Regions from separate parts of the Homo sapiens genome. Here region 1 is linked to region 2. The links come from fine-mapping of genetic effects on gene expression. A gene starts in region 2. The other region holds a variant in brackets. All regions are shown on one strand. Distances are between the middles of the regions. Region 1 overlaps ZNF445 (zinc finger protein 445). Region 2 holds the start of TCAIM (T cell activation inhibitor, mitochondrial).

The links. PIP is the estimated chance that this variant, and not a neighbour inherited with it, causes the effect.
Region 1: its variant is fine-mapped to the expression of TCAIM in whole blood (TOPMed, PIP 0.94).

Annotation. Positions count from the first base shown.
Region 1 is chr3:44,442,928-44,448,303 of GRCh38, reverse strand. ZNF445 (zinc finger protein 445) reads left to right here. Exons shown (of 8, transcript NM_181489.6): 8 at 1-5,376. The coding sequence ends at 1,729. Among named protein-coding and RNA genes, the nearest start is that of LINC01988, 18 kb to the right of the region's middle. The variant C/TC (reference allele first, on the strand shown) is at 2,578.
Region 2 is chr3:44,335,755-44,341,130 of GRCh38, reverse strand. It overlaps TCAIM (T cell activation inhibitor, mitochondrial), which reads right to left and starts at 2,365. Exons shown (of 11, transcript NM_173826.4): 1 at 2,297-2,365. It overlaps LOC105377055 (a long non-coding RNA gene), which reads left to right and starts at 3,013. Exons shown (of 4, transcript XR_940782.4): 1 at 3,013-3,426. It also overlaps a transcript of TOPAZ1 not described here. RefSeq lists a silencer at 2,315-2,704 and enhancers at 2,845-3,014, 2,699-3,352.

The sequences.
Region 1 (5,376 bases), 110 kb before region 2:
GAACAAAAAGGACGTGTGTGGAAAAGACTTCAGCCTTAGCTCTCATCACCAACGTGGGCAGAGTCTTCACACAGTGGGAGTGTCATTTAAGTGCAGTGACTGTGGAAGGACTTTCAGTCATAGCTCCCATCTTGCGTATCATCAGAGACTTCACACTCAAGAGAAAGCATTTAAATGTAGGGTGTGTGGGAAAGCCTTCCGGTGGAGTTCCAACTGTGCGCGGCATGAGAAAATTCACACTGGAGTGAAGCCTTATAAATGCGATTTATGTGAGAAAGCTTTCCGACGCCTGTCAGCCTACCGTCTGCACCGAGAAACCCATGCTAAGAAGAAATTTCTTGAATTGAATCAGTATAGGGCAGCTCTCACCTACAGCTCAGGGTTTGATCATCATTTGGGAGACCAAAGTGGGGAGAAACTCTTTGACTGCAGCCAGTGCAGGAAATCCTTCCACTGTAAGTCATATGTTCTTGAACATCAAAGGATTCACACCCAGGAGAAGCCCTATAAATGTACCAAATGTAGGAAAACCTTTAGATGGAGATCAAACTTTACTCGTCATATGAGGTTGCATGAGGAGGAAAAATTCTACAAACAAGATGAATGTCGTGAAGGCTTCAGGCAATCTCCTGACTGCAGTCAGCCCCAGGGTGCTCCCGCTGTGGAGAAAACATTTCTGTGTCAGCAGTGTGGGAAAACTTTTACTAGAAAGAAAACTCTCGTTGACCACCAGAGAATTCACACAGGTGAGAAACCTTACCAGTGTAGCGATTGTGGGAAGGACTTTGCCTATAGGTCAGCCTTTATTGTTCATAAGAAGAAGCATGCCATGAAAAGAAAACCTGAGGGCGGGCCATCTTTTAGTCAGGACACAGTGTTCCAGGTTCCTCAGAGCAGTCACTCCAAAGAGGAGCCCTACAAATGCAGCCAGTGTGGCAAGGCCTTCCGCAATCACTCATTCCTCCTCATCCATCAGAGAGTTCACACTGGAGAGAAGCCATATAAGTGCAGGGAGTGTGGGAAAGCCTTCAGATGGAGTTCCAATCTCTACCGACATCAGAGGATTCACTCTCTTCAAAAACAGTATGATTGCCATGAAAGTGAAAAGACTCCAAATGTGGAGCCAAAAATCCTCACTGGTGAGAAACGTTTTTGGTGTCAAGAATGTGGGAAAACCTTTACACGTAAAAGAACCCTTTTAGATCATAAGGGAATACACAGTGGAGAGAAGCGCTATAAATGTAATCTATGTGGGAAATCTTATGATAGAAACTATCGCCTTGTTAACCATCAGAGGATCCACTCTACAGAGAGACCTTTCAAATGTCAGTGGTGTGGGAAAGAGTTCATTGGGAGACATACCCTTTCCAGTCACCAGAGGAAACACACCAGAGCAGCACAGGCTGAACGTAGCCCGCCTGCACGGTCTTCCTCTCAGGACACAAAGTTGAGATTACAGAAGCTAAAACCAAGTGAAGAGATGCCCCTCGAAGACTGCAAAGAAGCTTGCAGCCAGAGCTCCAGGCTCACTGGACTCCAGGACATAAGCATTGGGAAAAAGTGCCACAAATGCAGCATATGTGGGAAAACTTTTAACAAGAGTTCACAACTCATTAGCCACAAGAGATTTCATACTCGAGAGAGGCCCTTCAAATGCAGCAAGTGTGGAAAGACCTTCAGGTGGTCTTCGAACCTGGCTCGGCATATGAAAAACCATATTAGAGATTAGCCTGGGACCTGACAGTGACAGTGGGGGTGGGTTCTCAGTCCCCTGCTAGAGAACCCTTAATTATAGGCATTGTGGAGTAACTTTGATAAAGGGCCCAGCCCTTTCTGTTTTGGAAGCTAGTGACAGAATCCCAAGGATTTGAAAGCTCGGGGAGTCCCCAGCCTGCCTGCTAGGATGTGACGCTGGGGAAGTGCAGCACCATGTCCTTTGGAGCCCTTCTGGAGACTCCGGCCCCTAGGAGTGGCCTCTGCACCATAGCCTGCGGCTCCCCTATTCAGGTCTCCTTCCACAACTCTGAAGAGAGAGACCACTGCCCTTTGTGGTTGGACAGAATATCTGTGGCATCATGGGCTATGGCTGCTGGAAAGGGGCCAGTGGGATCCTAGATTTGTCTTCAAGTTTGGCCTGTGGCCATGCCTATTCTGTTGACTTTAAAAGCAGCAGCATCAAGAACTCCTAGCCTTCCCAAATGCCCCCTGGGGAGTTCTGGCTGGGGCTTCAGCCTTCCTGGCTGGCTTTTGGATATCTGCTAGGGGGTTAGAGTGGTCTCAGCGGCAGGTGGAGGAGAGCAGGATGCTGGGCTCAAGCGCTTGGCGTGTGGATCTCTACCAGTACCCTGTTGCCATCCCCATCCCACAGGCCTGCATAGGCAGCAGCGGTCCATCTGTTTAACAGAAATGTGCTGAGCACTCCCATACACCAGGCGCTGGTGTGTTTGCCAGAGACCCAGCAGGGACCAGAACAGATGAAAATCCTGCCATCTTGGATCTTTACAGATGACAAACAAATGGGATACGCAGTATTCTGGATGGTGATGTGTGTAGTGGACAAAGTGAATCAGAGAAGAG[C/TC]AGAGGGAGTGCTGGATTGGGAGATCAGTCGTGATTTTAGATAGTCTGGTCAGGGAGGGCCTCAACTGAGAAGGTGAAATGTGAGCAAAGACGTGAAGGAAGCCAGGGAGGTAGCAGGTAGCTCTCTAGGGAGAGTTGCAGGCAGAGGAGATTGGGTCTTGACTGGTGTCCTCAGGAAGGAAGCCCCTGGGATGGAGTGCAGGGAGCCAGCTGGAAGGGAAGGAGAGGGGCCAGGGAGGCCACAGGCCCGGCCATATGAGCATCATGGGTCATTACGGGGGCTTGAGCTGGCTCAGAGGGAGGCAGGGAGCTTTTGGACAATTTTGAGTTGAGGAGTGATGTGGTTTGAATCTGAATTATATTTTATAAGGGTTAACCACAGATCCAAGGACTCAGTAAAAGGGTGAAAGGCTTCTCATGCAGTTAGCCTTGCTGCCAGTTCCCATAAATCAGACTCCTCCCCACTCCGTTTCTGAATTTTCTATAGGATCCTCGGCCTCAGCAGATATAAACGCTTACCATTGTTGTGTTCATGTCTCTAGCCCCTGCACACTGCAGGCCCCTCTCAGCTTCACATACCCCTCTCCATGTATGAGATCTGGTGCTAGCAATCAGATTCAACCCGAAGGAACAAGTGCATGTGCCTGCTGCTCTCAGGAGAAAAGGCAGCCTGTTCTGGGAGGAGCTCCCTCACTGGCCCACCCACTTGTGTTGAAGCAAAAAGCAAGAATCAATTACTTAAAGGCAAAGGAGTGATATTGCTAAAGCATGTGAGTAATCATTGCTTCTGATTATTGAAGAGGTCAGATTATGAATGAAAGGATAAAATGTTTTAATAGTAGAGCAGTGTCCTGACTATAGGGGCCCGTTCATGGAGCTGGTCATTTCTTGAAATGAGAAGAAACCAACCTGGAAGATGTCTTTTTCAGTAGAGTATGGAATAATCTTACCTGCTCTGGATTGCCATGAGCAGGTGAAAATGAAGGCTCTGATATTGTGTGGTGGTGTCACAGGATGGTGGGGGCGGGGCAGAAGTCTCCTGTTGGTGTTCTGATGCCTGTTCAGCTTTGTCCTCAGGAAGGTTTGGTCATCTTGGTTCTGCCATCCTCTTGCCTTCCTACGGCAGCAGCTGTTCATGGCACTGAAGATGTCCCTTCACTGTCCCAAAACTGGCACTAGAAGTGGCTGGGCAGGGGGGCCAGAGTCATAGGAAGGGTCTTGGAGTCATCAGATCTGGGTTCCAGGCATGGTGTGCCTTTTCTTGGCAGGATTGATCTTGAGCAAGTCAATGAACCTCTGCATCAATTTCCTTATGTGTGAAGTTAGAGTGCTTGGCTGTGCTACCTGATTCCTGAGATTGGTGAAAGAGGGCTTGGTTTACCAAGGCTCTCCATCAGGTGGTTGACCTCTAGGACCAGGGCCCTCTCAGAGGTGCAGCTTCCATGTCAGTTGGTGTTGTAACCATGGAAAAGTCCCTTTCCAATCAAACTTTTAGCACCCCTTTCCCCCCATCTCTGCTCCCTTTGCCACAGGATACCTTGTAAAGTTCCTGCCCCAGTATAGGGATATTTTTACTGTCTTTTTTATTTTTTGAGACAGGGTTGCCCAGGGTGGAGTGCAGTGGCAGGATCACAGCTTACTGCAGCCTTGACCTCCCAGGCTCAGGTCCCATCTGAGCCTCCCGAGTAGCTGGGGCTACAGGTGTGTGCCACCCTGCCAGCTAATTTTTTATATTTTTTTGTAGAGACAAAACTTTTATTTTTTTTTCCCATGTTGCTCATGCTGGTCTCAAACTCCTGGGCTCAAGCAATCCACCCACCTCTGCCTCCCAAAGTGCTGGGATTACAGGCGTGAGCCACTGTGCCTGACCTGTCATTTTTATAGAATGAAATGTGCTTATTTCTAAACATTCTAATCAAATTTTAAAATGTGCAAAGAATGAAGTGAAAAACTGAATTTTTTTTTTTTTTTGATACGGAGTCTCACTCTGTTACCCAGGCTAGAGTGCAGTGGCGCGATCTCCGCTCACTGCAAGCTCTGCCTCCTGGGCTCACACCATTCTCCTGCCTCAGCCTCCTCAGTAGCTGGGACTACAAGTGCCTGCCACCACGCCTGGGTTATTTTTTATATTTTTAGTAGAGACGGGGTTTCACTGTGTTAGCCAGGATGGTCTCGATCTCCAGGATGGTCTCGATCTCCAGGATGGTCTCGATCTCCTGACGTCGTGATCCACCCGCCTCGGCCTCCCAAAATGCTGGGATTACAGGTGTGAGCCACTGTGCCCGGCCAAAAGAACAGAAATTATTTTATCCTGAAGTAAGCTGTTTATATTTGGGATTATACTGAACCTATTTGTCCAATAACCTGAGTTTTCAAATAATTTTAGTTCTATAAGTACTATAATTATATAAATATTAATGAATTCAGATTAGCTGAAAGGAAAAAAAGTAGAAGCCTGACTACTTGGTGCTAACTACTAAAGATTTTGGCAGAATCAATGTTGGATTTGGCTTTCCTGTCCCTTCCCCATGCCAGCCCCCCAGAGTGTTCTGCCTTGTGCTGCCTCCCTTCACCTGGAGTGCCACACCCCTCTCTCTGCCAGTTCAGCTCTTCATTCTTCAAGGCCTGACCTTGTCTGACCCTTGTGCCTCTAAACCCGTGGCCCCACCTCTCTTGGTTCCTATGTCAGGTGATGTTTGTGTTTTTGGTTATGCCCATCTCCATAGCCAGACCAAGCACTCTGGAAGCCAGGGTTGGGTGCTTATTTATCTGTTTGCCATGCAGAAAATATCTTGCACA
Region 2 (5,376 bases):
TAGAGGAAAATGCCTATATATATAAAAATATATTCAGTTAATAATTCTGCTATCCATTCAACAAAATTATTGCTCTAAGATGATCACTTCCTATACAAATCATTGGAAAAAATTAAAAATATATTTTCTCGTTCTGTTTAAGAATAAGAATGAAAAACCGAGTACTATGAGTCTTTTGAGTATTTCCTGTAAGCTCTTCAAGAATGGGCTCTGACGACTAAGTGACAGATGAGGATCCAGTTTTGGAAAAGAAGAAAGGGACAGGGTAGGAAGGAGAGAAAGAAATAACTCTTAGGGCAGTGGTTTTCAAAGCAGCAACAGCATCCGTGAGAAATGCAAATTATCAGGTCCCATCCGAGTCCTGCAGAATCAGAATCTGGGTGGGATGGAGGAATCTGTTTTAACACACTGTCAGGGATTCTGATGCACACTCAGGTTTGAGAACCACTGTATTAGGGAATCCTGATTCTATCACCAAAGAGGATTCTGGGGCATCTGTTAATGTTTAAGCTTTAATTCTTTAAAAATAATTATTTAATACAAACTTGGATCTTTAGCTACCCAATTTATGCTAAAAATCAAAGGAGGATTTCAAGTTTTTGCTTGAATTAGTTCTTTGTTTCCTGTATGGTTTATGTACTTTTCAGATTAAAAAAACCAAAATTCTAAGTAGAGACAATGTCCAGCAGGTTGGCAGGCATGGCTGCCTGCCGCTTCACAACGCCCAGATCTTGGGTTAGTCTTCAACCTTGTAAGAACAGAACCCAATTTTATCACTTCAAGACAGAAATACGTGGGCCTTGGGGAAGCTAAATTAGAAGGCCTGATAACTGGAATGTCAATCTGTAAATTTACTTTGAGATTATAACTGCTAAGACAACTAGAAGATTCAGATCTAATGTTCTTCCTCTTTCAGGACTAGCTACACAGAAAATCAAATTACTATCAGCTGACTGAAGACACATTGCTTCAGAGTAGAGTTGGGTGCTCTCATTCAGACACTAGCTCCAAAAGTCTGGGACATCCACATCAACCGCAGGCTTCTCGTCTTCAGATAAATTCTTACATAGGTGGTTCCTGTCCATACTGCACTTAGCCCACTATACTTCCACTTGGAAAATGCTATAAAATAACTGAAGAGGTTGCACTGTCTTATCACACTTGGGAGGCATACCGAGTCTTTAACTCACCCATTCATCACCACTTATGGGCCAGGTCCTGCGTAAAGCATTGGGACTAGAAAATTATTAAGACAATTCTAATACTCAAAAGACTTTTAGAGGGAGGGGGGAGTGTAAAAACAGACACAAGCAGATAAGTATAAAACAACGCAGTAAATGCAATAATACAAACATGCACAGAATATGAGAAACTCCCAGACGCAACACTTGGAATGGGGCGGGGAGAGCTCAGGAAGGTCTTCTCTAAGGAAATGGTGCCTTTCCTGGAAGAGGGCAGAGGACCGGGAAGGATAAAATTTATTTACAAACCATTGTAAATGACTACTTTAATCTACTTAACAGTGATATTAGTTTCTGTTTCATAAAGTGAAAATTTCTAATTTTACCTAAAATCTGTTCTAAGTGAGGCATTAAATCTGTGCAGTTTCAAACCAAATTTGGTGGAAAGATACCTAAATCAGTGAAAAATCCAAATTATGGAAGAGTACACGAAAAACGGTTTTGTTTTGCTTACTTTCAACTAACACCGAGTGTGTGCCAAATAGAGCTCTCAGGATTGAGCTTTGACCATTTGGCACAACTTTTATTTGAAAGTAATTTATTTTAACAAAATTAATATCATGCCACTCTCATTTGAACTGTGACTTCCCTTAGTGACTATCTTGTACGGTTTCTGAAAGCAGTTTGTTATATCAAGGAGGGACAAAAGCGGTAATTTTCATGGCTTTTCAGTTGAATATGAACTTCTTAGAGTAGGGGAAAAAGGCAAAGAAAAAGAGCAAAAGCAGGAAATGCTATTAGATACATTAGCCTAGATTCTGTAGCTTCCTTTTCTAAATCTCGCTATATGAGATTTAGTACGTAACAATTTCCCGTAAATCAAAGACCTCGGAAAAATATAAGTCGGAAACAATAAAACCTAAATCGTCTTTGCGTTCTCATTTCACAGCGAGTTAAAATGTAGATGCGATGCGGATACTGCGTCCCCTGGCACTGCCTCAATTCAAAAGTTAGCACTTTGCGCTAAGGTGGCTCTGAGCACTCCCCTCCGACCCCGCTTCCCCCCTAGAGGAGCATGAATGCACCACCGGAGCCCCTCCCCTCTTGCTCCTTACAGTTCTGGCAAGGGTCCGACGCGAGGGCTTTGTCCGACTAGTTCCACCTCCCACCCAGTACACCAGAAGGGAGGACAGTCGCTCCGCCCGCAGGGCTGTTCGGACGCGCATGCGCACTGGGGCGTCAGCTGGCCAACCAGCGCGCGACGCACGGCCAGGCGCTCCCACCTGCCCTCGCCCCGGTGGGCGACAGGCTTTGACGGGCTCCTAGCCGCAGTGCCCTCTGAGCCCCCAACCCTGAATTCTCAGCTGGGCCCTCCCGGCTCCACCTGCCCCCAACACCCTCCCCGCTCCGGCGGCGGCAGGGCGCTCGAGGCAAGCCCGGGCAGGGGGACGAGCTGCAGGTGACGCCCTGGTTGGCTGGAGCGTGCCAGGCCTTCCCCCTACGGCGCCTGCGCACAGCCAGGGCGTGGATTCAACCTTCCGCGGTGCCCTGCCTCTAGCTGACGTCAGCACCCTGGTAACTGCTGCACCTTCGCCGCGCGCTTTGAGCCCCCGCCCCTCCGCCTTCTTACCGGCCGCCCTGAGGGGTCTCGGCGCGCTCGGCTGAGAGCTTTAGGAGGCGCGAGCGAGCACTCCGACTAGGCCGGAGGGACTCGGAAAATGATGGTCCGGCAGGTGGTGGGTCCTGACCCAAGGGCCTGCAAGGAACGGAGAAGGGCAACCGAGCACGCGCTGGATCTTGGGGAAGAAGGGGAAAGGGACTGCTGGAGGAGGCGCGCATGCGCCGTGCGGTCCTTCGCCCCGGGCGCCCTGGCAGGGGGCGAGGCTCTGCGGAACTCCCGGAGCTGGCGCCAGGGAACAAGTCTCAGTGGAGAGCCTCGAATTTTAAAAGTCTCATTTAAGTATTTCTTTTGGTTTTCCTTGTATAAATATAGCTAACTTTTAAACATTTCTTTTCCGGCTTGTGTTGTTTGCTTTGGACCCTTCAGCACCTATTTTTAAACGTTAAGCATTCCCCAGTCAGCATGAAAGTTTTACTGTTAGTTTTATTTTGTTCCTATAATTTTGATTCCCCCCAGAAACTGCCACAGATGAAATCAAGCCAATAGAATTGAAAGCAAAGATCACCTGGTGGCCATGAAGCCGACCATCCTTAGGCAGAAACTCCTTACCTGAGGAATTTAGAGGTAACTAGACTTCCCTGTTACCTAAAGCCAGCATCTGGTACCAGACTTCTTCCCTCCAAATTTAAAAGTAACTAGAATTTCTATGCATCTCCGTAATGCACGCATGTCAAAACTCATTGTGCACCCCTTGCCATCTGCTCCATGCCCCAATCAACCCCTGTCCCCTACCATCCAGATACTTTATTACCCTCACATACTTGCACAGGAGTTACATATGCCACTAGTACAAAGTCCTCAGAAAATCCCCCAAGTGTTATGCCTCTCCACAAGGTGGCAAACGGAGATTTGGGAACAATTTGAGTTCATGTCCCTTTTCCATTGTCTGAACTTTGGCAAATTCAATCCAAGTTGGGTTCATTTAGCCAGGATCCCTCTAAGTTCATTCAAGAATTTCGGGCTTTATTGCCTTTGATTTAACCTGGCAAGACACATTTGTGGTATTAACTATTTGCTGTTCCCACGAAGAAAAAATCACGGTCTTTAGCTCGAGTTTGGGCAGACGAAACTCATGTTGGCAATCCTAATAATAGAGCCAGGGCAGAAGCTGTCCCCAACACAGAACCCAATTGGCAATACCACGCTGCCAATGCCAGCCCAAACAGAGACAGGGGAAGAGAAGATTATAACATGTTTGTTGGAAGGAATGAAATAAAACCTGTTAATTTTTCTAAATTATGAGAGATCACTCAGGACCAAGGACCCTTCCCTTTTCCAAGCTAGACTAATGGAGGCCATGCATAAATATACAGATTTAGATCCTGAAAGCCCTGAGGGCCAATCCCTTCTGGCCATACATTTTATAAGTCAGGCTTCCCCAGACATCAGACAAAAACTCCAAAAATTAGAGCAAGGCCCACAAACTCCCTTTTGTACTTTATTAAAAGCAGCCTTTAAGGACACTGAAGTTGAGAATGTCCCAAACCTCCAGGTTGCAAGCCATCCCTGGGACCCTGTCCTCACTGCAAATTGGAAGAATGAGTGTCCCTCCCTCATGAAGGGGGGGCCACCTCTTCCTTCTAGGCTATGACAGCCACAGTCTCACCAACCTACCTGACAAGGGGATCCTGCAGAACGAGGGTGAGGGTGAGGGCGAGAGCAAGGGCAAACACCTCTAATTCTATTCCTGGATTATGATCAAGCCTCTGAAATGTCAGTCATCCATCCTCTAGATGGGGCCTTGAAGCCATCCACGGCCCTGTCTTTTCCATCTCTGTGGATGATCCCAGGGCAAATCTGATTGTGGCTGAACAACAGATAATGTTACTCATAGATACACGGGACAGTTATTCAGCTTTATAAACATTTACTATGGCCCAATGTGCCAGTCCTCCATTTTCCTCATGGATATTGATGGAAAACCCCAATGAGGCTGTTTCACACAGCCATTCCCTTGTAAAATGAAAGGCTATTCCTTTACTCCTTTTTAGCCCTGTTCTATTAGGTTGTGATTTACAAAATTACAAGCTAATTTACAGCTAAGGCCCCACCTTCTAGCTGTATTAACACTTCACCAAAAGAGCCCCTGCAGCTTCTCCCAGATAGCAATCTACTTCAGTATGTGGATGACTTACTAATCTGTAGTCCTAACCAGGCTGTTCCAGACCAAAATACAGTATTAGTATTCAACAAACTTGCTAATTGTGGGTACAAAGTATCTCCTTCTAAAGCACAAATATCCACACAAAGGGTTCAATTTTGGGGTCTTATTTTAATTCCCAGTGAAAAAGCCTTTGTAGTGCTTGTACAGATCTTAAACGTGACAATTGTGGTAACTAAACAACAGCTTCAGTCATTTTTGGGTAAGGCTGGGTTTTGCAGAATATGGATTCCTTCCTTTGAGTTAATAGCAAAACCTTTATATGAAGCCCTCAAGGGAACTCAGGAACAGTCTCTATACTGGACTAATGAGATGAAGCATGCTCTAAACACTTTAAAATAGGCTTTAATCTC